Linked DNA regions of Homo sapiens: region 2 is linked to region 1. Evidence: fine-mapped expression QTL. A gene starts in region 1. The other region holds a variant in brackets. All regions are shown on one strand. Distances are between the middles of the regions. Region 1 holds the start of MIA (MIA SH3 domain containing). Region 2 overlaps LOC124904790.

What was found. PIP is the estimated chance that this variant, and not a neighbour inherited with it, causes the effect.
Region 2: its variant is fine-mapped to the expression of MIA in lymphoblastoid cells (TwinsUK, PIP 0.95).

What each region holds. Positions count from the first base shown.
Region 1 is chr19:40,766,951-40,782,569 of GRCh38, reverse strand. It overlaps MIA (MIA SH3 domain containing), which reads right to left and starts at 7,049. Exons shown (of 4, transcript NM_006533.4): 1 at 6,901-7,049; 2 at 6,685-6,818; 3 at 5,491-5,601; 4 at 5,080-5,173. The coding sequence starts at 7,027. The coding sequence ends at 5,150. It overlaps RAB4B (RAB4B, member RAS oncogene family), which reads right to left and starts at 4,323. Exons shown (of 8, transcript NM_016154.5): 1 at 4,179-4,323; 2 at 2,471-2,551; 3 at 2,071-2,185. The coding sequence starts at 4,194. MIA-RAB4B (MIA-RAB4B readthrough (NMD candidate)) reads right to left here and starts at 7,033. Exons shown (of 10, transcript NR_037775.1): 1 at 6,901-7,033; 2 at 6,685-6,818; 3 at 5,491-5,601; 4 at 2,471-2,551; 5 at 2,071-2,185. It overlaps RAB4B-EGLN2 (RAB4B-EGLN2 readthrough (NMD candidate)), which reads right to left and starts at 4,351. Exons shown (of 12, transcript NR_037791.1): 1 at 4,179-4,351; 2 at 2,471-2,551; 3 at 2,071-2,185. RefSeq lists enhancers at 2,721-3,252, 4,140-4,209 and silencers at 4,270-4,509, 5,060-5,189.
Region 2 is chr19:41,176,949-41,188,097 of GRCh38, reverse strand. All of the region lies in intron 1 of LOC124904790, which reads left to right. Among named protein-coding and RNA genes, the nearest start is that of CYP2S1, 11 kb to the left of the region's middle. RefSeq lists an enhancer at 6,063-6,852. The variant TTTA/A (reference allele first, on the strand shown) is at 6,263.

The sequences.
Region 1 (15,619 bases):
AAGTGCTGGGATTACAGGCGTGAGCCACCGTGCCTGGCCCTATTTAATTCCCTATTTCTGTCTTTTTTGTTTGTTTGTTTCATCTCTGTGGCTCTCTCATGCTTACCTTTGCCTTCCCATGCATTTGTGCATTCATTCATTCAACATTTTCTGAGCAAATCTCCCCTTTGCCTGGCCCTGCCCAAGCACTATACAACATCTGCTTATCCTTCTCCTGCTGTGTCAGGTGGAGTCTCCTTCCCAGTGTAGCCAATTCTGCATTCTCTGTCTCACCAGTCTGGGTCCTTCTGGAACTCATGCAATCATTCCACAGCATTTACTAAGCACTCACCGTAAACCTAGCCCATGCTACACACCTGTCTATCCTTCAGCCCCTCTCTCTGCCTTTGGGCTCTGTGCACCTCAGGCAGTTAATCCATACGCAAGAATTAACTCAGCAGCTACTAGATGCTGCCATAGATCACACTTTTCCGTGGACTGAATTCCCTCTATTTCTCTCCCTGCTCTCTGTTTCTCCGACTCTCCTAAGGTTTTTTTTTTTTTTTTTTTGAAACGGAGCCTAGCTCTGTCGCCCAGGCTGGAGTGCAGTGGCGCGATCTGGGCTCACTGCAAGCTCCGCCTTCTGGGTTCATGCCATTCTCCTGCCTCAGCCTCCCAAGTAGCTGGGACTTCCAGCGTCTGCCACCACACCCAGCTAATTTTTTGTATTTTTAGTAGAGACGGGGTTTCACCATGTTAGCCAGGATGGTCTCGATCTCCTGACCTCGTGATCCGCCCGCCTCGGCCTCCCAAAATGCTGGAATTACAGGCATGAGCCACCACGCCCGGCCTCTCCTAAGGTTTCTATGTGTCTATCAACTTTTCTGCTCTGCAGGCATTTCCTGAAGACCTACAGTGTGTTGAGCCCTACGCATTTCTCTCTCTCTCTCTCCCACAACACGTCCATTTCTCCATCTCTCTTTTGGAAAGATGGGATTTCACAATGTTGCCCAGGCTGGTCTCAAACTCCTGGACTCAAGCGGTTCTCCTGCCTTGGCGTGTGTGTCTTCAGTTCCCTATTTCTCACTGTCTCTCTTTCTGTTCCATCTCTGTGGCTCTCATGCTCACCCTTGCCTTCCCGTAAATTCGTGCATTCATTCATTCAACGTCCAACTACACCTGTCTGACTCACCCTGTCTCCCTCTCTGCCTCTGACCTCTGTTTCTCTGTGTCTCCTCACCTCCCTTATTTATTTATTTATTTATTTATTTATTTATTCATTTATTTATTTATTTATTTATTCAGAGACAGAGTCTCGCTCTGTCACCCCGGCTGGGGTGCAGTGGTGCGATCTTGACTCACTACAACTTCTGCCTCCCAGGTTCAAGCAATTCTCCTGCCTCAGCCTCCCAAGTAGCTAGCATCCACCACCACAGCCTGGCTACATTTTTTGATTTTTTTTTTTTTTTTTTTTTTTTAGTAGAGACACGGTTTCACCATATTGGCAGGCTGGTCTTGAACTCCTGACTTCAAGTGATCCACCTGCCTCAGCCTCCCACAGTGCTGGGATTATAGGTGTAAGCCACCGTGCCAGGCCTCCTTACCTCCCTTATCATTCTCTTCAACTCTCTTAGTCTCTGTCTCTCTTGCTCTTTTCCTTTCTGAGTGTGAGTCTCTCAAGTTTCCCCTTCTCTTTCTGTTTCGGTGTCTCTCAGTCTCCATCCCTTTCCCCACCCCCAAGCCACTTTTCTCTATCTCTTTTTCTTTCTTTGAGATGGGGTCTCACTATGTTGCCCAGGCTGGTCTCAAACTCCTGGGCTCAGGCAATCTTCCCACCATGGCCTCCCAAAGCACGGGGATTACCGGCATGAGCCATTGCGCCTGGCCCCTACCTCTTTTTCTTCCACCATCTCTTTATCTCTCCAGTACTCCCTCTCTCCTTGGATATATATACCTGCTAACTACGGTGTCTCATCTCTCTCTGTCTGCCTTGTCTGCCCTCTCAGTGTCTCCAAGTGACTCTACACACACATCTCTCTCTTTCCTTCTCACTCTCTCTCCCCATCACCCTTGGGAGCCCAGCCCACCTACCGAAACCGCTCCTGGCCAGCCGTGTCCCAAATCTGTAGCTTCACAGTCTTCCCACCCACGTTGACCACCCGGGATCCAAACTCCACGCCGATTGTGTGGTTGGAGTCCTGTTTGACTGGGAGTAGGAGGAACAGAAGGGGCAGTACAGGGAGAGAGGAGACAGCTCAGAGGATCCCCCATCCTCCAAGGCCCTCTCAGTCTCTACAAACCCATTCTCCTTGCTGGAGTGACTTGAGGTCAAGGAGAACCTAGTAAAGGACATACGACAAAGCAAGGACCAAAAAGCCAGCACTGGACTTGTACCTATGGCCAGCCCTGCCCTCCCCACCGGCTGCCCACCAGCCCACACCATGCGCATAAACACAGCTCAGGGTTCCCAGGACCACTGCGGGAAACTCACACTTATTCTCAATGAACTGATGAAGGAGACATGATTTGCCAGTTCCTGCACTGCCAATCACCAGGAATTTGAAGAGGAAGTCTGACCAGATGGAGCCAAAATCAGGGATACCCACAGGGAGAGAAAGATACAGGGAAAAAAGATGGATTCCAATCCAATCTCTCTCTCTAACCATCACAGTTAGAGGGAGAGAAACAGACATAGGCAGAAACAAACCAATAGGTAACAGTAACAGATAACTCTTATGTAGTACTTGCCATGTGCCAGGCACATTCTATATATTTTTTTTCAACTTTTATTTTAGATTCAGGGAGTACATGTGCAGGGGTTTTTTTGTCGTTGTTTTTGTTTTTTTGAGACAGAGTTTCACTTTTCGTTGCCCAGGCTGGAGTGCAATGGCGCGATCTCGGCTCACCGCAACCTCCACCTCCCAGGTTCAAGCAATTCTCCTGCCTCAGCCTCCCGAGTAGCTGGGATTACAGGCATGCGCCACCACACTCAGCTAATTCTGTATTTTTAGTAGAGACGGGGTTTCTCCATGTTGGTCAGGCTGGTCTCAAACTCCCGACCTCAGGTGATCCGCCTGCCTCAGCCTCCCAAAGTGCTGGGATTACAGGCATGAGCCACCGCGCCCAGCCCACATGTGCAGGTTTGTTACATGGGTCAATTGTGTGTTGTTGTGGGCCAGGAACAGTTCTAAAGGTCTTTACTCACATCAACAGCTCACATCATCCTCAGGAAAACTCTATGAGGGAGGTAGACTAAAAATTATTCCCATTTTCCGGATGAGGTAACAGGCCAGAAAGGTTAACTGACTTGCCCAAAGTGACACAGCTGGGCAGAAGTGAGATTCAAACCTAGGCCAAGGGCTCCAGAGTCCCAGATCTTAGCTATTTTGTCGCTAAAGTCTCTTGAAAGCTATTTAAACAAGGACTACGATATAGCCCTTGTTCCTCTTCACCTCCTACCACCCTCTGACTCATTCACTCCACTATAGCTCCTGACCTTCAGTCTATTCCCTGAAAATGACAAGCTGGTTCTCACCTCAGGGTCTTTGCACTCTTCTCCCTTCTCTTCTATATTTGTTGAGTGAATGCGGCTCCCTCTGACTCCTAAACCTGCACTTCCCCTGCCTCCAATCACCACCTCCTATGGTGCATCCCTACTGATTTTCCACTTCCCGACCTCTCCTTCCCTCCCTCTGCCCAGAACCCGGCTCCATTCTCATGCATAAGTCCCACCCTTTGCCACTAAGTCCTGCCCCTAACTCAAGGACAGCCCATCCCCAAACCCATTCCAGAGCTCTCTCCAGCCAGATCAGCCCCAGGGTCCCGAGCTTCCATTCAGTGTTCCCTCTAGCCCATAAGCCCGACTCCTGCCATTCATGCAGTCAGCCCCGCCCCTTCACTCAGGCTCCGCCCAGATCCATTAAGGCCCACCTCTTCCCTCAGGGCCTCCCTGAACCCCTCAGGACCAGCTCCCTCAAATCCCGCCCCAGATCTATTTAACCCACGCACCAGACCCTCAGGCTCCACCTAAATCGATTAAGCTCAGCCTCAGACCCACTAAACCCCTCCCAGCATCCACTTAGGTCCTGCCTCCATCACACCAGACCCCGCCCCCTGATCTACAAAGCCCCGCCCATTCCCACAGGCCGCATCCTCCCTGGGCCCAGACCCAGGACCCCAGCTTCGTCCACCACCCTCACCGTAGGTCTCAGCCATGACTCGGTCGCGGCCGCTGAGGGCCGCAATATGGCGCCGCGGCCGCGCCTGCTCCTCGGCTGGCAGCCGCTCCACTCCGGCTACAGCCCCGGCTCCTTCCTACTCCCCGGGCCCGGCACCGCCACTTCCGCCTCCGCCCCCCTCCGGCGCGACCCGCTCCGGCAGCTGGATACCAGGCGACGCTTTCCGAAGGGCGGGATTGGCGGACTCGCGGGCAGGGGGCGGGACAAGAGGCGCGGATTGGTGGCGTGAGAAGGACCAAGCCCAAAGGGGCGGGGCCGAGCCCAGCGATTGGCTGAGCAAGTGGGAAGGGACGTGCAGAGCTGCTTAGCTGAGCCGAGGAACGGATTTAGTCTGGAGTACGGGGGGCAGAGTCGAGTCTCCGGATTGGATCGGAGCGGACTTGGGGGAGGGGATACAAATGCAAAGAAGGGGGCACGGGCAGGATTGACAGAAAGAGGCTGGAAGAGGAGCTGATCTTGAGCTGGCGGGAGCGATTACTGTTCTCAAAGGCGAAAAGGAGGAAAACTGGGCAGATAGGCGCAGGTTACTTCCCACCTCCCTTTCCAGATAATCTTCCAAGAAAACCTTTACTGTGCGATTTATATCCTCCGCGTAGTCCGATTGGCTCCCTCCCACTGGTCTAGAGAGGACACTACAATCCCCTAGTTGGGCTGCTTAGGTTTTCCTTTGCTTGTGTCCGAAACCTAAGCTTAGGAGCGCTCCTACTGCACAGGGCTTTCATCAGTGAAACTCTGCCTAGCAACCACTGACGTTACCACAGGCAGCGGGTTAATTGGTTAGATTCAGCAACCTAGAGAAACATTTCATTTGTACAGTCCCCACCCTACCCTACCCCACCCCAAAGACCACGGAGACGAGCCGTTTGCACTGGGCTGATTGTATTTGCATAAAGCCAAGGAGGGGAAACGGCAGGGCCAGCGGTAGGCTGAGCTCACTGGCAGTAGAAATCCCATTTCTGAAAAAGAGAAAGGGGAAACAGTGGAAAGAAAACCAGCGGTCACACCACAAAGGATCTAGTGGTTTTAGCAAAGGCTGCAGCTGCAGGGCCCAGGTCTGGCCACACAAGTGCTATGCAAATTAGCCTAGAGCCCTCTAATCTTTGCACCTCCCAACTGGACCCATTTTACTGGTGAGAAAATTGAGGCAGGGAAAGAATTTCTCCCAGCGCACATACCTAGGCTGCCAGGGAGCCAAGTGTGGGAGCATTTTTGCCCATCCCCACAACCTAAGGGTCCTCCCCCCACATTTCTTGCCAGCCCCCATGACACTCACGTCTGTCTTCACATCGACTTTGCCAGGTTTCAGGGTCTGGTCCTCTCGGACAATGCTACTGGGGAAATAGCCCAGGCGAGCAGCCAGATCTCCATAGTAATCTCCCTGAACCTGGGGAAGAGGAGTTAAAAGCTAGGGTCTGGGAAGATGGCAAGCTTGTGCCTGCTGAAGGCCTTTGCATTCTCCCTTCTCCCTGATCTCCACATAACTGCTCCATCCTTGTCATATGAATCTCAGCTTAAATGCCACCTGTTCAGAGGCCCTTTCTGAACACCCAAGTAAGTCTCTGTTAATTCTCACAGCAGCGCATATTTGCTTTTATTATTATTATTATTTTGGAAACAGGGTCTCATTGTGTCGCCCAGGTTGAGGTGCAGTAGCATGATCACGGCTCACTGCAGCCTCAACTTCTGGGATCAAGCAATCCTCCCACCTCAGCCTCCCGAGTAGCCGGGACCACAGACACATGCCATGAAGCCCAGTTAATTTTAAATTTTTTTTTATAGAGATGGGGGTCTTGCTATGTTGCCCAGGCTGGTCTCGAACTCCTGGGCTCAAGCTATCCTCCCAACTTGGCCTTACTTGGGATTACAGGTGTGAGCTACTGTGCCCGGCTGCTGCTATTTTTTATGCCTTGCTTTTTGTTCATTTCCCTCCATTAGAATAAAAAGGATCATTTGTTGTTGTATCTTGGTGTCTAGAACAGAACGTGGGACCATATCAGGTCCTAAAATTGGTAAATAAAGTGAAAATAGGCTGGGGGGCAGTGGCTCACACCTGTAATCCCAGCACTCCGGGAGGCCAAGGCGGGCAGATCATGAGGTCAGGAGTTCAAGACCAGCCTGGCCAATATGGTAAAACCCTGTCTCTACTAAAAATACAAAAATTAGCCAGGTGTGGTGGTGCATGCCTGTAATCCCAGGTACTTGGGAGGCTGAGGCAGGAGAATCGCTTAAACCCAAGAGGTGGAGGTTACAGTGAGCCGAGATCGTGCCATTGCACTCCAGCCTGGGTGACAGAGCAAGACTCTGTCTCGGAAAAAATTAAAAAATAATAAGCAAATAAAATAAAGTAAGTAACAATATCCCCCCACAATGTCTATTTCAGTTCACCCCCCTCAAATCTTCCCTTCATGGGGATAATGAGTCTACCCCAGCTCTGTACCCTTCCCTCTTTCACTCTCCCAAGACTCACGCTGCCTCCCCAGAAGAGCCGCCCACGGCCCTTCAGCTTGGAGAAGACATACACCACTTGGCCCCGGTGAATGGTCAGGAATCGGCAGTCGGGGGCCATGTAGTCCTGAAGGGCCACAGCCATGGAGATAGGGTCTAGGGAAGGAATAGAAGGGAATGCAGCACCCTCCACACAGGCTAACGCCCAAGCCCCCAATTCTCCCCTCCCCATTCTTACGGCTGCACTCCTGGTCCGCACACAGCTTCCGGTCAGCCAGCTTGGGCATAGGACCACCCCTGACACCAGGTCCGGAGAAGGCAGACAGCAAGATGATGACACCAAGGCACACCAGGGACCGGGCCATCGTGGACTGTGAGCAAGAGAGTGAGCAAGGGGGTGCTGGGGTCTCCAATTTCCTCCCCTCCCTCTCTCCCGTAGTACAAGGAAACTTGTGTTCTTGGTCTTGTCCCCGCCCTAAACCAGTCCCAAACTTCGCCCACACCACCTAGAAGTTGCTATGAAACCAGAACCATTTCAAGGATAGGGTAAAGGCTGTAAGCCCAAGGAAATTCCCAGATAAGGTCCAAAGCAGCTCACAACTTTCCCAGTGACAGCCCCCTCCTCAACAATCACAGAGGCCTAGATAAGGTGGTTGAAATATTCAATTCCATCTTCTCTTGAGTTGGCTTAGGTACCTGGGCTCCTCCGCTGTCCCCTCTGGCCACAGAAGCGGAGGAGCCTGTAAAGAAAACCACCTTGGAATTTCCTGTGCTGTGGGGCAGGAGAACAAGGCAGCCCTTTGATTACCAGAAACAGCCCAGCCCTTGAGTACTGACTGAATATTGTATGCTGAACCTTAGGCTAGGCAAAGTCCCACCATGATCACTATTCCTCTGCACCAGACGCTTCCCACTGGATGACCTGGGCTAAGCTATTTCTCCTCACAAAGCCTCAGCTTCCTTATATGTAAAATGGGAACAATAAAAAAGCCAATAGTTACAGAGCATTCACCAAGTACATATTTATGTTATGAACTCAAATGGATACTCTGTATCATGTCAGGAGGAGTGATTATAACCCCTCCCTTTTTTTTCTTTTTTGAGACAGGGTCTCACCCTGTTGCCCAGGTGGAGTGCAATGGTGCCATCCCGGCTCACTGCAGCCTCAACCTCCTAGACTCAGGCAATCCTCCCACCTCAGCCTCCTGAGTAACTGGGACTACAGGCACAAGCCACCTATGCCCAATTAATCCATTTTTTTAAATAATTATTTTGAGGTAGAGTCTTGCTCTGTTGCCCAGGTTGGAGTGCACTGGCATGATCCTGGTTCACTGTAGCCCCTATTTCCTGGGCTCAAGCATTCCTCCCACCTCAGCCTACCGAGTAGCTGGGACCACAGACATGTACCATTATGCCCAGTTAATTTTTTGTATTTTTTGGTAGAGCCGGGGTTTCGTCATGTTGCCCAGCCTCGTCTCAAACTCCTGGGCTCAAGCAATCTGCCCACCATGGCCTTCCAAAGTGCTGGGATTACAGGCATGAGCCACCAAGCCCAGCCTAATTTAATTTTTTGAGACAGGATCTTGCTGTTGCTCAGGCTGAAGTACAGTGATGTGATCATAGCTCACTGCATCCTCAAACTCCTGGGCTCAAGAAATCCTCCCCTCTCAGCCTCTCGAGTAGAATAGTAGGCAAGTCACCATTCTTGGATGATTTCTTTTATTTTTATTTTTCTAGAGCCAATGTCTTACTGTGCTGCCTGGGCTGGTCTTGAACTCTTGTCCCCAAGTATCCTCCCGCCTTGGCCTCCCAAAGCACTGGGATTACAGGCATGAGCCACCAATGCCTGGCCTATAACCCCTTGTTACATGGAAATGGAAGTGTGGAGTTAAGGAACTTGTCTAAGGCTTACAGAGCCAGGAAGTGGAGAAGTGGAGAGGCTAAGACTTGTATCCAGGCCCACAGCCATTGCTATGCTATCTTTTTTTTTTTTTCTTTTTTTTCTTTGAGATGGAGTCTCATATTGCAGTGGTACAATCTCAGCTCACTGCAACCTCCACCTCCCGAGTTCAAGCAATTCTCCTGCCTCAGCCTCCCGAGTAGCTGGGATTACAGGCATGTGCCACCATGCCCGGCTATTTTTGTATTTTTAGTAGAGACAGGGTTTGTCCATGTTGGCCAGGCTGGTCTCGAACTCCCCACCTCAGGTGATCCACCCGCCTCGGCGTTCCAAAGTGCTGGGATTATAGGAGTGAGTCACCGCGTCTGGCCTGAAAGATTTTTTTTTTTTTACAGGCAGGGTCTCACTCTGTCACCCAGACTAGAGTGCAGTGCCACAATCACAGCTCACTCAGCCTTGAACAACTGGGCTCAAGCTATTCTCCCACCGCAGCCTCCTAAGTAGCTGTGACTATAAGTGTGAGCCACTGCACCTGGCTTTGAAATGCAATTTCTTTTTTTTTTTTTTTTTTTTTGAGACATTGTTTCGCTCTTGTCACCCAAGCTGGAGTGCAATGGCACGATCTTAGCTCACTGTGACCTCCCCCTCCCGGGTTCAAGTGATTCTCCTGCCTCAGCCTCCCAAGTAGCGGGGATTACAGGCATCTGCCACCATGCCCAGCTAATTTTGTATTTTTAGTAGAGATGGGGTTTCACCATGTTGGTCAGGCTGGTGTCAAACTCCTGACCTCAAGTGACCCACCCACCTTGGCCTCCAAAAGTGTGGGGATTACAGGTGTGAGCCACCGCACCCGGCCCCACTTTAAAACACTCTTTAAAAAATTATTTCTTCATTCAGGCCAGACATGGTGGCTCACTCTTGTAATCCCAGCACTTTGGGAGGCTGAGGCAGGCGGATCACTTGAGGTCAGGAGTTTTGAGACCAGCCTGGCCAACGTGGTGAAAATACAAAAATTAGACAGGCATGGTGGCACACACCTGTAGTCCCAGCTACTTGGGAGGCCGAACCAGAATCACTTGAAACTGGGAGGTGGAGGCTGCAGTGAGCCAAGATCACGCCACTGCACTCCAGCCTGAACGAGAGAGTGAGACCCTGTCTCAAAAAAAAAAAAAAAAAAATCCGCCGGATGCAGTGGCTCACACCTGTAATCCCAGCACTTTGGGAGGCTGAGGTGGGTGGATCACCTGAGGTCAGGAGTTCAAGACCAGCCTGGCCAATATGGTGAAACCCTGTCACTACTGAAAAATACAAAAATGAGCCAGGCATGGTGGCGCATGCCTGTAGTCCCAGCTACTCAGGAGGCTGAGGCAGAAGAATTGCTTGAACCTGGGAGGTGGAGGTTGCAATGAGCCAAGATCATGCCACTGCACTCCAGCCTGGGTGACAGAGTGAGACTCTGTCTCAAAAAAAAAAAAAATCATTTCTTCATTCATTGAAGATTTCATGAGTACATAAAGTATCCTAGGACTTAATCCAGACCCTGGAGATTCATCAAGGAATGAAAATTAAAGGGGAGATAATCAATGAACAAAGTTCAGATATATGATAGTGTGTGAAGTATTAAGGATACTCAGAAAGAACACTCAAGAATCAGCTGTGGGAACCGTGCCCCCTGCCCCATATTACTGATGAAGCCACAAAGAAATAGAAGTGACTTCAATTCCCAAAGCACAGTGCATGTATCTCCTGCTGCATAATTAGCCTAAGACCAACATTGCCCCAGTGCAGTGGCTCATGCCTGTAATCCCAACACTTTGGGAGGCTGAGACAGGAGGATTGCTAGAGCCTAAGAATTTGAGACCAGCCTAAGTAACACAGGGAGACCCTTGTACCTACAAAAAGAAGAAAAAAAGAGAAAAACTAGCTGTGCATGGTGGTACAAACCTGTAGTCCCAGCCACTCAGGAGGTTGAGGTGGGAGGACCACTTGAACCCAGGATGTAGAGGCCGCAGTGAGCCATGATCGTGCCACTGCACTCTAGAGCAAGAACCTGTTTAGAAAAAAAAAGACCAAAATTATCACCTTTTCTGTGGGTCGAATGTCTCAGGCTTAAGGTCTGCTATAAGGCTGCAATCAGCCTGTCAGCCAGGGGTGCAGTTTCATCTGAAGGCTGAATGGTGGGAGGACTGCTTCCAAACTCATTCAGGCAGCTGTTGGGGAGATGCAGTTGCTTGTGGGAACTGGACTGAGGGCCTCTGTCCTCAGTTTTCTTGACACGTGGACCTCTACAGACAGCTTGAGAGGTGAAGATGGCTGGGCCTCTGGGCCGGTGAGGACTTGGAGAACTTTTCTGTCTACCTAAAGGATTGTAAATGCACCAATCAGCACTCTGTGTCTAGCTAAAGGTTTGTAAACACACCAATCAGTGCTCTGTGTCTAGCTAATCAGGTAGGGGACTTGGAGAACTTTTCTGTCTAGCTAAAGGATTGTAAATGCACCAATCAGCGCTCTGTGTCTAGCTAAAGGATTGTAAGCACGCCAATCAGCGCTCTGTGTCTAGGTAAAGATTTGTAAACGCACCAATCAGCTCTCTGTAAAAACGGACCAATCAGACTCTGTAAAACAGACCAATCAGCACTCTGTAAAATGGACCAATCAGCTATCTGTAAAATGGATCAATCAGCAGGATGTGGGTGGGACCAAATAAGGAAATAAAAGCAGGCCACCCTAGCCAGCAGCTGCAACTGGCTCAGGGCGCCTTCCATGCTGTGGAAGCCTTGTTCTTTTGCTCTTTGCAATAAATTTTGCTGTTGCACATTCTATAGGTCCACATTATCTTTATGAGCTGTAACACTCACCGCGAAGGTCTGTGGCTTCACTCCTGAACTCAGCATAGACTACAAACCCACCAGAAGGAAGAAATTCCAGATACATCTGAACATCTGAAGGAACAAACTCCAGGCACACCATCTTTAAGAACTGTGACACTCACTGCGAGGGTGCATGGCTTCATTCTTGAAGTCAGCGACGCCAAGAACCCACCAGAAGGAACCAATTCCAGACACAAGCTCACAACGTGGCAGCTGGATTTCCCAACAGCAAGACAGAGGCCAGTCTTTGTACCCACCCTTTGTACTCTTCCTCCATATTGCAGCCACAGGAGCAGGGCCACTGAGAAGCACAATTTTTTTTTTTAATTTTTTAAAATTTTGAGACAGAATCTCACTCTGTCGCCCAGGCTGGAGTGCAGTGGCATGATCTCGGCTTACTGCAACCTCCGCCTCCCGGGTTCAAGCAATTCTGCTTCAGCCTCCAAGTAGCTGAGACTACAGGCACGTGCCACCATGCCTGGCTAATTTTTGTATATTTAGTAGCGACGGGTTTCACCATATTCACCACGCTGGTGTCGATCTCCTGACCTCAAGTGATCTGCCCACCTCAGCCTCCCAAAGTGCTGGGATTACAGAGGTGAGCCACCGTGCCCGGCCTCTTTTTTTTCATCTCTCACCTCCAAAGTGTGCTTCGGAGATCCACAGGCTAAGCGTCCTTCTCCAGAGGGTCCACGTTGCTCCCAGGGACCCTCACCTCTAGACTGGCAAGTCCAAGCTTTTTTTAGAAGAGGATGGACACACACAGGCTTGGGGCCAGGGAAGAGTTTGTCAGGGATGAAGACTAGGTCTGTGCCATGTCTACAAACCCAACACCAAGCACCATGAGCTCAGCTCAAATGCACCTTCTCAGAAGGGTTTTCTGGACCACTCATTACTGTTCCCAACCCCATCACCCGCTTCACATCAGGATTTTTTTTTTTTTTTTGGAGTCTTGCTCTGTCACCCAGGCTGGAGTGTGCAGTGCCACTGCACCTCCATCTCACTGCAACCTCCACCTCCAGGTTCAAGTGATTCTCCTGCCTCAGCCTCCCAAGTAGCTAGGATTACAAGCATGCACCACCACGTCTAACTAATTTTGTTGTTGTTGTTGTTGTTTTGTTTGTTTGTTTTTTTGATACAGAGTCTTGCTCTGTCGCCCAGGCTGGATTTTGGAGTGCAGTGGCGCGATCTCGGCTCACAGCAAGCTCCACCTCCCGAATGGCTCACGCCATTCTCCTGCCTCAGCCTCCCAAGTAGCTGGGGCTACAGGCGCCCGCCACCACACCCGGCTAATTTTTTTGTATTTTTAGTAGAGACGGGGTTTCACCGGGTTAGTCAGGATGGTCTCGATCTCCTGACCTCGTGATCCGCCCGCCTCGGCTTCCCAAAGTGCTGGGATTACAGGCATGAGCCACTGCGCCCGGCTGTTGTTGTATTTTTAGTAGAGAGAGTGTTTCAGCATGTTGGCCAGGATGGTCTCGTACTCTTGATCTGAAGTGTTCCACCCACCTCAGCTTCCCAAAGCGCTGGGATTACAGGTGTGAGCCCCTGTGCCTGGCCCAGCCTAGGTTGTTTTTTGTTTGGAGATGGGGTCTCACTCTGTCACCCAGGCTGGAGTGCAGTGGCACCATCATAGCTCCCTGCAGCCTTGAACTGGGCTCCAGTGAACCCCCTGGGTCAGGCTCCCAACTAGCATGCCACCACTCATGGCTAATTTTTAATTTTTTTTTTTTTTTTGTAGAGATGAGGTCTCACTTTGTTGCCCAGGTTGGTCTCCTTGCCTCAAGCGACCCTCCCACCTCGGCCTCTCAGTATGCTGGCCCCACCACATCAGTTTTGTTTTCATCACAACACAATACTGGAAATTCTCTATTTTATTAATCACTGCATACCTTGTCCCTACAAAAGTATGCAGCACACAATAGGTACCCAGCAAATATTTGCTGAACTTATTGAGTGCTTGCTAAGTGACTGAAAGGGAGAGAGTGTGTGCTAGGGGATGGGTAATGAGTACAAACATCATCATGGTATTAATATAGAGGGACTACTCTTTACACAGGAAGTAAACAAAACTCAGACTGGGGACATCAACTGCCCATGGGCTAACAGCTATGAAGTCCCCAGAAAGCAGAAACCAGGACCAGCTGACCACGGAACGCACATACTTAATAGCCAGTAGGCCTGTGGTTGCCAGTATGGTGGGCGAGATGTTTCCCCTTGCCTGTCAGCAATAAACGTCATTTACTGCAGAGGGCAATTCCTGTCGTTCCCATCTTTCCCATCACAAGTGGAGGAGGTCTGCATGGGGTGCCCTGTATCTTCACTGCTTTTAATATTGACATTCCTCGTGAACAGGGAGAGCAGGGCATGAGCAGGATTGGGCCTAGAGCCTTGGCAGGAAAATAAGAATTTAGTATGTTTAGCCAGGCACAGTGGCTCACGCCTGTAATTCCAGCACTTTGGGAGGCCGAGGTGGGTGAATCATTTGAGGTCAGGAGTTTGAGACCAGCCTGGTCAACTTGGTGAAACCCCGTCTCTAATAAAAATGCAAAAATTAACCGGGCATGGTGGCGGGTGCCTGTAGTCCCAGCTACTCAGGAGGCTGAGACAGGAGAATTGCTTGAACCCAGGAGGCGGAGGTTGCAGTGAGCCAAGATCATGCCATTGCACTCCAGCCTGGGTGACAGAGTGAGGCTCTGTCTCAAAAAAGAAAAAAAAAAAGCCCGGGCGCGGTGGCTCACACCTGTAATCCCAGCACTTTTGGAGGCCAAGGCAGGCAGATCACCAGGTCAGGAGTTGGAGACCAGCCTGGCCAATATGGTGAAACCCTGTCTCTACTAAAAATACAAAAATTAGCCAGGTGTGGTGGCATGCACTTGTAATCCCAGCTACTCAGGAGGCTGAGGCAGGAGAATCGGGACGCAGAGATTGCAGTGAGCAGAAATCGCGCCACTACACTCCAGCCTGGGTGACGAGCAAAACCCCGCCTTAAAAAAAAAAAAAAATTAGCCAGGCATGGTGACGGGTGCCTGGAGTCCCAGCTACTCAGGAGGCTGAGGCAGGAGAATCGCATGAACCTGGGAGGCGGAGGTTGCAGTGAGCTCAGATCATGCCACTGCACTCCAGCCTGGGCAACAGAGCAAGACTCCATCTCAAAAAACAAGGAAAAATTTAGTATGTTTTACTGTATTCATGTATGTATGTATTTATTTTGAGACAGAGTCTCACTGTCACCAGGCTGGTTGATTGCAGTGGTGCAGTCTCGGCTCACTGCAACCTCCGCCTCCCATGTTCAAGCGATTCTCGTGCCTCAGCCTCCCAAGTAGCTGGGGTTACAGGCACGCGCCTCCACGCCCAACTAATTTTTGTATTTTTAGTAGAGACAGGGTTTCACCATGTTGGCCAGGATGGTCTCGATCTCCTGACCTCGTCATCTGCCCACCTTGGCTCCCAGAGTGGTGGGATTACAGGCGTGAGCCACCGCACCTGGCCTACTGTATTTAGTGGTAGATCTACTTTTTGCCAAAAGATTGCCTTTTTCCATGTACCTGGTGTGAGAAAGGGTCTTAAGTAATATGCGCATGCGCATATATATATATATACACACACACACACACACACACACTTTTTTTTTTTTTTTTTTTGAGATGGAGTCTCACTCTTTTTGTCATCCAGGCTGGAGTGCAGTGGTGCAATCTCGGCTCACTGCAACCTCTGCCTCCCAAGTTCAAGCAATTCTTATGCCTCAGCCTCCCAAGTAGCTGGGACAAGTGTGTACCACCATGCCCAGCTAATTTTTTTTTTTTGAGACAGATTCTTGCTGTTGCCCAGGCCAGAGTGCAATGGCGTGATCTTGGCTCACTGCAATCTCCACCTCCCGGGTTCAAGCGATTCTCCCTCCTCAGCCTCACGAGTAGCTGGGATTGGCACCCGCCACCCGTGCCTGGTTGATTTTTGTATTTTTGTAGAAACGGGGTTTCACCATGTTGGCCAGGCTGGTCTTAAACTCCTGACCTCAGGTGAGCCACCCACCTCGGCCTCCCAAAGTGCTGGGATTACAGGAATGAACCACCACGCCTGGCCAATTTATTGTATTTTTAATAGAGATGGGGTTTCACCATGTTGCCCAGGCTGGTCTTGAACTCCTGAGCTGAGACAACCTGTCCACCTCGGCCTCCCAAAGTGCT
Region 2 (11,149 bases), 410 kb before region 1:
TGTAATGACCTCCAGTTACATCCATGTGTAATTGTAATAGGTTTGTTGCCCAATGCACACAGCAAGTCAGTATATCGAGACACTGTGAAACCATTCCCACAGGGCTGACAAGAATTGCATGCTGGGTTCTGGACAGAAACATACTTATAATTAAGTGTTATTCGGGCTGCACTTTGGTCCATTTCCTTGTTGCTAAAACTCAGGTAGAGCTAGATACTGACCATGTGCACCCCCATTGTTCCTATAGACAGAATCTCTGATATTAGAGTCATAAGGCTTTTGTTAAAGAAAGAATCACTTAAGATGCTTTTCAGGGCCAGGCACGGTGGCTCACACCCATAATCCCAACACTTTGGGAGGCTGAGGTGGGTAGGTCACTTGAGGTCAGGACTTCAAGATCAACCCAGTCAACATGGTGAAACCCTATCTCTACTAAAAATACAAAGGACATTAGCGGAGTGGAGGTGGTGGGGGGAGGTGGTTCACACCTGTAATCCCAGCTACTCAGGAGGCTGAGACAGGAGAATTGCTTGAACCCAGGAGGCAGAGGTTGCAGTGAGCCGAGATTGTACCACTATACTCCAACCTGGGAGACAGAGTGAGACTCCATCTCAATAATAATAATAATAATAATAATAATAATAATAATAATAATAAATACATAAACAAAAATGTAAAAAGATGCTTTTCAGACCTTGAATTCCAGCAACCAGTGTGAAGGCTACCCACTGGGGAATGGGATCAGCATGAGAATGTGGCTTCTTCATCTCCCTGTCCCGTGACTTCACCCTACATTCTTCAACTCCTCATCTCTTTTGGCGACCCTACGATGAAACCTCTTCTCTCCTGCAACCCAGTGTCTCCTGTTGATTTGCTGTGTGCACTGGGCAATGAGCCTACTACAGTTATAACTGGTTTGCAGCAGAGAAGCAGGTTTAATTGTAGGGTCACTGAATGAGGAGATGGGGGGAAACCTCACATCCATCTCCCCTAAGAGTTTGGGGCTAGGGTGTTCAAGGGTTTTGGAGTGGGCTGAAGGGTGGAGATCGTTGATTGGTTGAAGAGTGCAGAGTGAAGTCACGGGACAGAGGGTGGAAGAAGAAGTTATAGTCTCATGCTGATCCCTTTCACTCGCGTCCGTGTGAAGAGACCACCAAACAGGCTTTGTGTGAGCAACAAGGCTGTTTATTTCACCTGGGTGCAGGCGGGCTGAGTCCAAAAAGAGTCAGTGAAGGGAGATAGGGGTGGGGCCGTTTTATAGGATTTGGGTAGGTAGTGGAAAATTACAGTCAAAGGGGGTTGTTCTCTGGCTGGCAGGGGTGGGGGTCACAAGGTGTTCAGCCGGGGAGCTTTTGAGCCAGGATGAGCCAGGAGAAGGAATTTCACAAGGTAATGTCATCAGTTAAGGCAGGAACAGGCCATTTTCACTTCTTTTGTGATTCTTCAGTTACTTCAGGCCATCTAGATGTATACGTGCAGGTCACAGGGGATGTGATGGCTTAGCTTGGGCTCAGAGGCCTGACAATCCCCATCCTCTGTAGGGGTCTTCAAACTGGTGGCTGGAATTGGGGGTCCAAAAAACATCTGACGTGATCCTTAACAAAAACATCATGATTCTAAGGTCAGCGATGCTGTCTATAAGAACAATGGGGATACAAATGGTCAGCATCTAGAGCTATGTGGCTTTCAGCAACAAGGAAGTGGACCAAAGTGCAGCATGATTAATGCTTAATTTTCTTTCTTTCTTTCTTTTTCTTTTTTTTTTTTTTTTTTGAGTCTCACTCTGTCACCCAAGCTGGGAGTGCAATGGCATGATCTCGGCTCACTGCAACCTCTGCCTCCCGGGTTCAAGCAATTCTGCCTAGGCCTCCCAAGTAGCTGAGATTACAGGCACCTGCCATCACACCCAGCTACTTTTTGTATTTTTAGTAGAGACAGGGTTTCACCATGTTGGCCAGGCTGGTCTCGAACACCTGCCCTCAAGTGATCTGCCCACCTCGGCCTCGCAAAGTGCTGGGATTACAGGTGTGAGCCACTGTGCCCAGCCAATGCTTAATTATATTTCTATCTAGAACCTGGCTTGCAGTTCTTGTCAACCCTGTAGGGACAGACAGTTTCACATGTTGCTGCAAATGACAGGATTTTATTCTTTTTCTAACGGCCAAATAGTTTTCCATTGTGTAGATGTACCACATATTCTTTATCCATTCATCTGTTGATGGACATTTAGGTTGATTCCATATCTTTGCTATTGTGAATAGTGCTGTAATAAACATTGCTGTGTAGCTATCCCTTTGATACACTGATTTCTTTTCCTTTCCATAAATTCCCAGTAGTGGGATTGCTGGATCATATGATTGTTTTTTGTTTGTTTTTTGAGATGGAGTCTTGCTCTGTCGCCCATGCTGGAGTGCAGTGGTGCCATCTCGGCTCACTGCAAGCTTCGCCTCCTGGGTTCACGCCATTCTCCTGCCTCAGCCTTCTGAGTAGCTGGGACTACAGGTGCCCGCCGCCATGGCCAGCTAATTTTTTTTTTTTTTTGTATTTTTAGTAGAGACGGGGTTTCACCGTGTTAGCCAGGATGGTCTGGATCTCCTGACCTTGTGATCCACCCACCTCGGCCTCCCAAAGTGCTGGGATTACAGGCGTGAGCCACCGCACCCAGCCCTTATGATAGTTTTTTGAGAAATTTCCATACTGTTTCTCATAGTGGCTGGACTAATTTACATTCTCACCAACAGGGTATGTTTCCTTTCCTCCACATCATTGCCAACGTGTATTATTTTTTGTCTTTTTATATTTTATATATTGATTCACTTTCTTTTTTGAGATGGAGTCTCACACTTGTTGCCCAGGCTGGAGTGCAGTGGTGTGATCTCCGTTCACTGCAACCTCTGCCTCCTGGATTCAAGTGATACTCCTGCCTCAGCTTCCTGAGTAGCTGGGACTACAGGCATGTGACACCATGCCTAGCTAATTTTTGTATTTTTAGTAGAGACAGGGTTTCACCATGTTGGCCAGGCTGGTCTTGAACTTCTGACCTCACTCAAGTGATCCACCCACCTTGGCCTCCCAAAGTTCTGGTATTACAGGCATGAGCCACTGGGCCCGGCCCTGCCCGGCCTACTTTTTTTTTTTTTTAAAGACAGAGTTTTGCTCTGTTGCCTAAGCTGGAGTGCAGTAGTGTGATCTCTGCTCACTGAAGCCTCTGCCTCACAGATGTCAGCGATCCTCCTGCCTCGACCTCCTGAGTAGCTGGGACTACAGGTACGCGCTCCATGCCTGGCTAATTTTTTGTAGAGACAGGGTTTAGCTATGTTGCCCAGGGCTCAAGCGATCCACCTGCCTCGGCCTCCCAAAGTTCTGGGATTACTGGTGGGAGCCACTGCTCCCGACCTTGATTTGCTTTTTTATACTCCCTTTTCCCACTGAAATGGTCTCTCCATAAGGGCCGATTCTCTGTCTGTTTTGTGTGTTGCTGTATCCCCAGTGCCTAACACACTGTGGATGCTCAATAAACATCTTGTCGAATAAACACTTTCAATACAATTTATAAATCTCTAAAATTCATCCAGAAAGCAATCAAGTGTCCAAAATTCTCAAGTCTAGAAAGCAAACATTCTTAGGTTCCCAAGATAGATTTCACAGTAACTGAGTGATTCCAGGTGGATTCTGGCCTTTCTGCAATGCCAAATCCCCACCCTGGGCCAGGAGATGCCCATTTGTATAGTTCAGCTGAAAACAGCCTGACTTTTTCCACCACTCCTTGCCCTGACCCCAGCTACTTCCCATCAGAAACCCTCTGATCTGGGCTGGACAGTGCTGGAGTGATCATTTTTGTGTCTGGCCCCCTACTGTGGATTTTCTTTTTCTTTCTTTCTTTTTTTTTTTTTGAGACGGAGTCTCGCTCTGTTGCCCAGGTGGAGTGCAATGGCGCGATCTCGGCTCACTGCAATATCTGCCTCCCGGGTTCAAGTGATTCTCCTGCCCCAGCCTCCCGAGTAGCTGGGATTACAGGCGCATGCCACCATGCCCAGCTAATTTTTTGTATTTTTAGTAGAGACGGGGTTTCACCGTGTTAACCAGTATGGTTTCGATCTCCTGACCTAGTGATCCGCCTGCCTTGGCTTCCCTAAGTGCTGGGATTACAGGCATGAGCCACCGCGCCTGACCACTACTGTGGATTTTCCTAACCATTCTGGAAGCTGCCAACCCCAGGGTTCTGGCAAGCTGTGTGATGGATGGGTTTAAGAAACTGCTGGGGGATTTAGTTTGCTAAGGCTCCTCCAAGCATATGGCTCTGGAACCCCACCTGCTGTCCAAGGCTAAGCCACAGCCTGTCTGCTCTGTGGTCCACTTTACCAGGCTCACTCTGCCTGCCCACTCTGATTTTTTCCTCTCAGTCTTGTTTATCTTAGTCTCTCTCCTTTCTCTTCTTCAGAGGTGCCTCATTCAGCACCTGGAACTAGATAGAAGGGGAAGTCCAAGATGAGTCCTGCTTCCAGGCCTTGGACTTCCCCAGATTCTGTGAGCATCATCCGTGGCTGGGAATAGTGTCAGTGAGTTGAGGTGATTACATCATCGACCCCAAAGCAGCAATGTTCTCTGCTCTGGGCTTCTACAGCCGTCTCGTCATCCTATCCCTCCTCCCTTCCCTATTTATCCTGTCATCCATCCACTCGTGCACCCCACCATCAGGAGAGCACTGCCTCCCCCATGCTCTCATTTACCCCCACCTATCCCTTATCCAGTCCTTCATTCCATCCCCTCATCCCACTGCTCATCCTGTCCCATTATCCTACATCCTCACCCCATCACCTCACCCCATCCTTTCTTTTCCTGACATGTTCTATGTACTGTGGACCTAAAAGAAAGAAGTCAAGGGGTGGGTGCAGTGGCTCATGCCTGTAATCCCAGCACTTTGGGAGGCCGGGGCGGGCAGATCACCTGAGGTCAGGAGTTTGAGACCTGCCTGGCCAACATGGAGAAAACCCATCTCCACTAAACATACAAAAATTAGCTGGGCGTGGTGGCGCGCACCTTATTGGCCAGGCTGGTCTCAAACTCCTGAGAGTTATGTTATTTTTGTAAACCAATAAGAATTCCTGACAAGCATTTTTTTTTTTTTTTTTTTTTAGCGGGGGTGGTTATTGAGTTTTTTTGAGACAGGGTCTCACCCCATAGCCCAGACTGGAGTGCAGTGGCAGGTTCATGGCTCACTGCAGCCTCGACCTCCCAGGCCCAGGTGATTCTCCCACCTCAGCCTCCTGAGTAGGTGGAATCACAGGCATGCACCACCATGCCTGCCTAATTTTTGTACTTTTTTTTGTAGAGATGAGGTTTCGCCATGTTGCCCAGTCTGGTCTTAAACTCTTGGGCTCAAGCGATCCACTTGTGTCAGTCCCACTCCCTGTCCCCCTTTTTTTACCTTTAAAAATCCACTTGTTCGCTGGGCACAGTGGCTCATGCCTGTAATCCCAGCACTGTGGGAGGCCATGGTGGGCAGATCACCTGAGGTCAGAAGTTCGAGACCAGCCTGGCAGACATGGAGAAACCACGCCTCTACTAAAAATACAAAAACTAAGAAAAACTAAAAAAAAAAAAAAAGATTAAAATAAAAATTCAAAAACTAGCCAGGGATGGTGGTGCACGTCTGCAATCCCAGCTACTTGGGAGGCTGAGGCAGGAGGATTGCTTGAAACTGGGAGGCAGAGGTGCATCAGCTGAGATCGCGCCATTGCACTCCAGCCCAGGCAAGAGAGTGAGACTCCGTCTCAAAAAAGAAAAAAAATCCACTGGTAGGCTGAGGCAAGAGGATCATTTAATCCCAGGAGTTCAAGACTGTGGTGAGCTATGATCTTGTTGCTACCCTCCAGCCTGGGTGACACGGTGAGACCCTGTCTCAGACCAAAAAATAAAATAAAATAAAATAAAATAAATCCAACTTGCAAGTACTGCTAAATCAGAGTGCATATTCAGGGCAATTTGAATCTATACTTCTGATTTGCAACCCTCAAGCTTGGCTCAAATAAATAAACTCTCTACTTTTGCCTTGACTTCTTCGTTTTTGTTTTTTTTTTTTTAACGGAGTCTCCCTCTGTTGCCCAGGCTGGAGTGCAGTGGCACGATCTCAGCTCACTGCAACCTCTGCCTCCCAAGTTCAAGCAATTCTCCTGCCTCAGCTTCCTGAGTAGCTGCGATTACAGACGCCTGCCACCATGCCCAACTAATTTTTTTTATTCTTTTTTTTTTTTTTTTTTTT[TTTA/A]ATTTTTTTTTATTGATCATTCTTGGGTGTTTCTCGCAGAGGGGGATTTGGCAGGGTCATAGGACAATAGTGGAGGGAAGGTTGGCAGATAAACAAGTGAACAAAGGTCTCTGGTTTTCCTAGGCAGAGGACCCTGCGGCCTTCCGCAGTGTTTGTGTCCCTGGGTACTTGAGATTAAGGAGTGGTGATGACTCTTAACGAGCATGCTGCCTTCAAGCATCTGTTTAACAAAGCACATCTTGCACCGCCCTTAATCCATTTAACCCTGAGTGGACACAGCACATGTTTCAGAGAGCACAGGGTTGGGGGTAAGGTCACCGATCAACAGGATCCCAAGGCAGAAGAATTTATCTTAGTACAGAACAAAATGAAAAGTCTCCCATGTCTACTTCTTTCTACACAGACCCGGCAACCATCCGATTTCTCAATCTTTTCCCCACCTTTCCCCCCTTTCTATTCCACAAAACCGCCATTGTCATCCCGGCCCGTTCTCAATGAGCTGTTGGGTACACCTCCCAGACGAGGTGGTGGCTGGGAGAGGGGCTCCTCACTTCCTAGTAGGGGCGGCCGGGCAGAGGCGCCCCTCACCTCCCGGACGGGGCGTCTGGCCGGGCGGGGGGCTGACCCCCCCACCTCCCTCCCGGACGGGGCGGCTGGCCGGGCGGGGGGCTGACCCCCCCACCTCCCTCCCGGACGGGCTGGCTGGCCGGGCGGGGGCTGTCCCCCCCACCTCCCTCCCGGACGGGGCGGCTGGCCGGGCGGGGTGCTGATCCCCCCACCTCCCTCCCGGACGGGTCGGCTGGCCGGGCGGGGGGCTGAGCCCCCCACCTCCCTCCCGGACGGGGCGGCTGGCCGGGTGGGGGGCTGACTCCCCCACCTCCCTCCTGGACGGGGTGGCTGGCCAGGCAGAGGGGCTCCTCACTTCCCAGTAGGGGCGGCTGGGCAGAGGTGCCCCTCACCTCCCGGACGGGGCGGCTGGCCGGGCGGGGGGCTGACCCCACCTCCCTCCCAGACGGGGCGGCTGGCCGGGCGGGGGGCTGACCCCCCCACCTCCCTCCTGGACAGGGCGGCTGGCCGGGCAGGGGGCTGACCCCCCCACCTCCCTCCCGGACGGGGCGGCTGGCCGGGTGGGGGGCTGACTCCCCCACCTCCCTCCTGGACGGGGTGGCTGGCCAGGCAGAGGGGCTCCTCACTTCCCAGTAGGGGCGGCTGGGCAGAGGCGCCCCTCACCTCCCGGACGGGGCGGCTGGCCGGGAGGGGGGCTGACCCCCCACCTCCCTCCCGGACGGGGCGGCTGGCCGGGCGGGGGGCTGACCCCCCCACCTCCCTCCCGGATGGGGCGGCTGGCCGGGCGGGGGGCTGACCGCCCCCACCTCCCTCCCGGACGGGGGGCTGACCCCCCCACCTCCCTCCCGGACGGGGCGGCTGGCCGGGCGGGGGGCTGACCCCCCCACCTCCCTCCCGGCCGGGGCGGCTGCCGGGCGGAGACGCTCCTCACTTCCCAGACTGGGTGGCTGCCGGGCAGAGGGACTCCTCACTTCTCAGACGGGGCGGCTGCCGGGCGGAGGGGCTCCTCACTTCTCAGATGGGGCGGATGCTGGGCGGAGGGTCTCCTCACTTCTCAGACGGGGCGGCCGGGCAGAGACGCTCCTCACCTCCCAGACGGGGCGGCGGGGCAGAGGCGCTCCCCACATCTCAGACGATGGGCGGCCGGGCAGAGACGCTCCTCACTTCCCAGATGGGATGGCTGCCGGGAAGAGGCGCTCCTCACTTCCTAGATGGGATGGCGGCCGGTCAGAGACGCTCCTCACTTTCCAGACTGGGCAGCCAGGCAGAGGGGCTCCTCACGTCCCAGACGATGGGCGGCCAGGCAGAGACGCTCCTCACTTCCCAGACGGGGTGGTGGCCGGGCAGAGGCTGCAATCTCGGCACTTTGGGAGGCCAAGGCAGGCGGCTGGGAGATGGAGGTTGTAGCGAGCTGAGATCACGCCACTGCACTCCAGCCTGGGCACCATTGAGCGCTGAGTGAACCAGACTCCGTCTGCAATCCCGGCACCTCGGGAGGCCAAGGCTGGCGGATCACTCGCGGTTAGGAGCTGGAGACCGGCCCCATTTTTTTTATTCTTAATAGAATTGGGGTTTCACCATGTTGGCCAGGCTAGTCTCGAACTCCTGGCCTCAAGTGATCCACCCACCTTGGCCTCCCAAAGTGCTGGGATTACAGGCGTAAGCCACTGCACCAGGCCTAAAAGTTCTTTTCTAAGTACTACTCTTCGTAGCTGGGTGAGGGTGCAAGAAGAAAAAAATAAGGCACTGCTCCTACAAATTCATATCAGGAAGGCAACCATAAGTTGAGAAAAATAAAATTTCGGGTCTCCTGGGGGACAGCTTTTGCTTCCTTTCCTTCATCTCCCTCTGTATCCAACTATCACCTGGTTCCACCCCCTCCAGTCCCCTTATTAAAAAAAAAAAAAGGTATTTCAAAAGTATATATATATTTTTTGAGACGGAGTCTCGCTCTGTCGCCCAGGCTGGAGTGCAGTGGCGCGATCTCGGCTCACTGCAAGCTCCACCTCCCGGGTTCACGCCATTCTCCTGCCTCAGCCTTCTGAGTAGCTGGGACTACAGGCGCCCGCCACCACACCTGGCTAATTTTTTTGTATTTTTAATAGAGACGGGGTTTCACCGTGTTAGCCAGGATGGTCTTGATCTCCTGACCTCGTGATCCGCCCGCCTCGGCCTCCCAAAGTGCTGGGATTACAGGCGTGAGCCACCGTGCTCAACCAAGTATACGTTTTTGAGACAGGATTTCGAACCGTTGCCCAGGCTGGAGTACAGTGTTTTGGTGGGGTCATTACACCCTCCACCTTCCCGGGTCATGTGACCCTCCCATCTCAGCCTTGTAGATAGCTGGGACTACGGGTGCATGCCACCATACTTGGCCAACTTTTAAATGTTTTGTAGAGATGAGGTCTCACTATATTGCCCAGGGTTGTCTTGAACTTCTGGCTCAAGCCATCTTCCCTCCTTGGCCCCTCAAAATGTTGGGATTACAGGCGTGAGCCACTGTGCCCAGCCTCCAAAATATATGTTATTTTAAAAATAATAATAATTACTGTTTTTTGAGACAGAGTCTCGCTCTGTCACCCAGGCTGGAGTGCAGTGGAGTGGTCTCAGTTCACTGCAACCTCTGCCTCCCAGGTTCAAGCAATTTTATATTTTTAGTAGGGACAGGGTTTCACCATGTTGGCCAGGTTGGTCTCAAACTCCTGACCTCAGGTGTTCCGCCCACTTCGGCCTCCCAAAGTGCTGGGATTACAGGCGTGAGCTACTGCACCCAGCCAAAAATAATTATTCCTTTTTCTTGAAATGGAGTCTTGTTCTGTCGCCCAGGCTGGAGTGCGGTGGCATGATCTCAGCTCACTGCAACCTCTGCCTCCGGGGTTCAAGTGATTCTCCTGCCTCAGCCTTCCCAGTAGCTGGGACTACAGGCACACACCACCATGCCCAGCTAATTTTTGTATTTTTAGTAGAGACAGGGTTTCACCATGTTGGCCAGGCTGGTCTCAAACTCCTGGCCTCAAGTGATCCACCCGCCTCAGCCTCCCAAAGTGCTGGGATTACAGGCGTGGGCCACCGCGCCTGGCCTTGAAAATAATTATTTCAAATACAGACATGGAGAAAGGATTAGAGGAATTACCACGATTATACATACACACCTATCTTTACAATATCTTAACATTTTTACCATTATTTATTTAGAGAAATAAAATACTCATGACCGGGTTTGGGGTTCCCTGTATCCCTTCTGAAACGTCACATCCTTCTCTCCCTCCTACAGGGGAAGCACTGTCTTTTTTTTTTTAGACGGAGTCTCGCTCTGTCGCCCAGGCTGGAGTGCAGTGGCGTGATCTTGGCTCATTGCAACCTCCGCCTCCCAGGTTCAAGCAATTCTCCTGCCTCAGCCTCCAGAGTAGCTGGGATTACAGGCACATGCCGCCATGCCTGGCTAATTTTTGTATTTTTAGTAGAGATGGGGTTTCACTATGCTGGCCAGGCTGGTCTTGAACTCTTGACCTTGTGATCTGCCCACCTCAGCCTCCCAAAGTGCTGGGATTACAGGCATGAGCCACTGAGCCCAGCGGGAGGCACTATCTTATAATTAATATTTCCAGGTACGTTCTGATTGTTTTCCTGCATATTTGTGCAACCACACACAATTATTTGGGAAAACGTTCTTTATTTTTATTTTTATTTTTTTGAGATGGAGTCTTGCTTTGTTGCCCAGGCTGGAATGCAAAGGCATGATCTCGGCTCACTGCAATCTCCGCCTCCCAGGTTTAAGTGATTCTCTTGTCTCAGCCTCCCGAGTAGCTGAGATTATAGGTGCCCACCACGCCTGGCTAATTTTTGTATTTTTAGTAGAGATGGGGTTTCACCATATTGGTCAGGTTGGTCTCGAATACCTGGCCATGTGATCTGCCCACCTAGGCCTCCCAAAGTGCTGGGATTACAAGCATTAGCCACTGCACCCAGAGAACAAGTGGATTTTTTTTTTTTTTTGAGATGGAGTTCCACTCTGTTGTCCAGACTGAAGTGCAGTGGCAAGATCTCGGCTCACTGCAACCTCTGCCTCCCAGGTTCAAACGATTCTCCTGCTTCAGCCTCCTGAGTAGCTAGGACTACAGGCACCCACCACCAAGCCTGGCTAATTTTTGTATTTTTAGTAGAGACAGGGTTTCACCATGTTGGCCAGGCTGGTCTTGAACTCTATTACCTCAAGTGATCTGCCTGCTTCGGCCTCCCAAAGTGCTAGGATTACAGGTGTCAGCCACCGTGCCTGGCCTGGGAAAACATTCTTTTGCAGGCTTAAAAACTTTATGC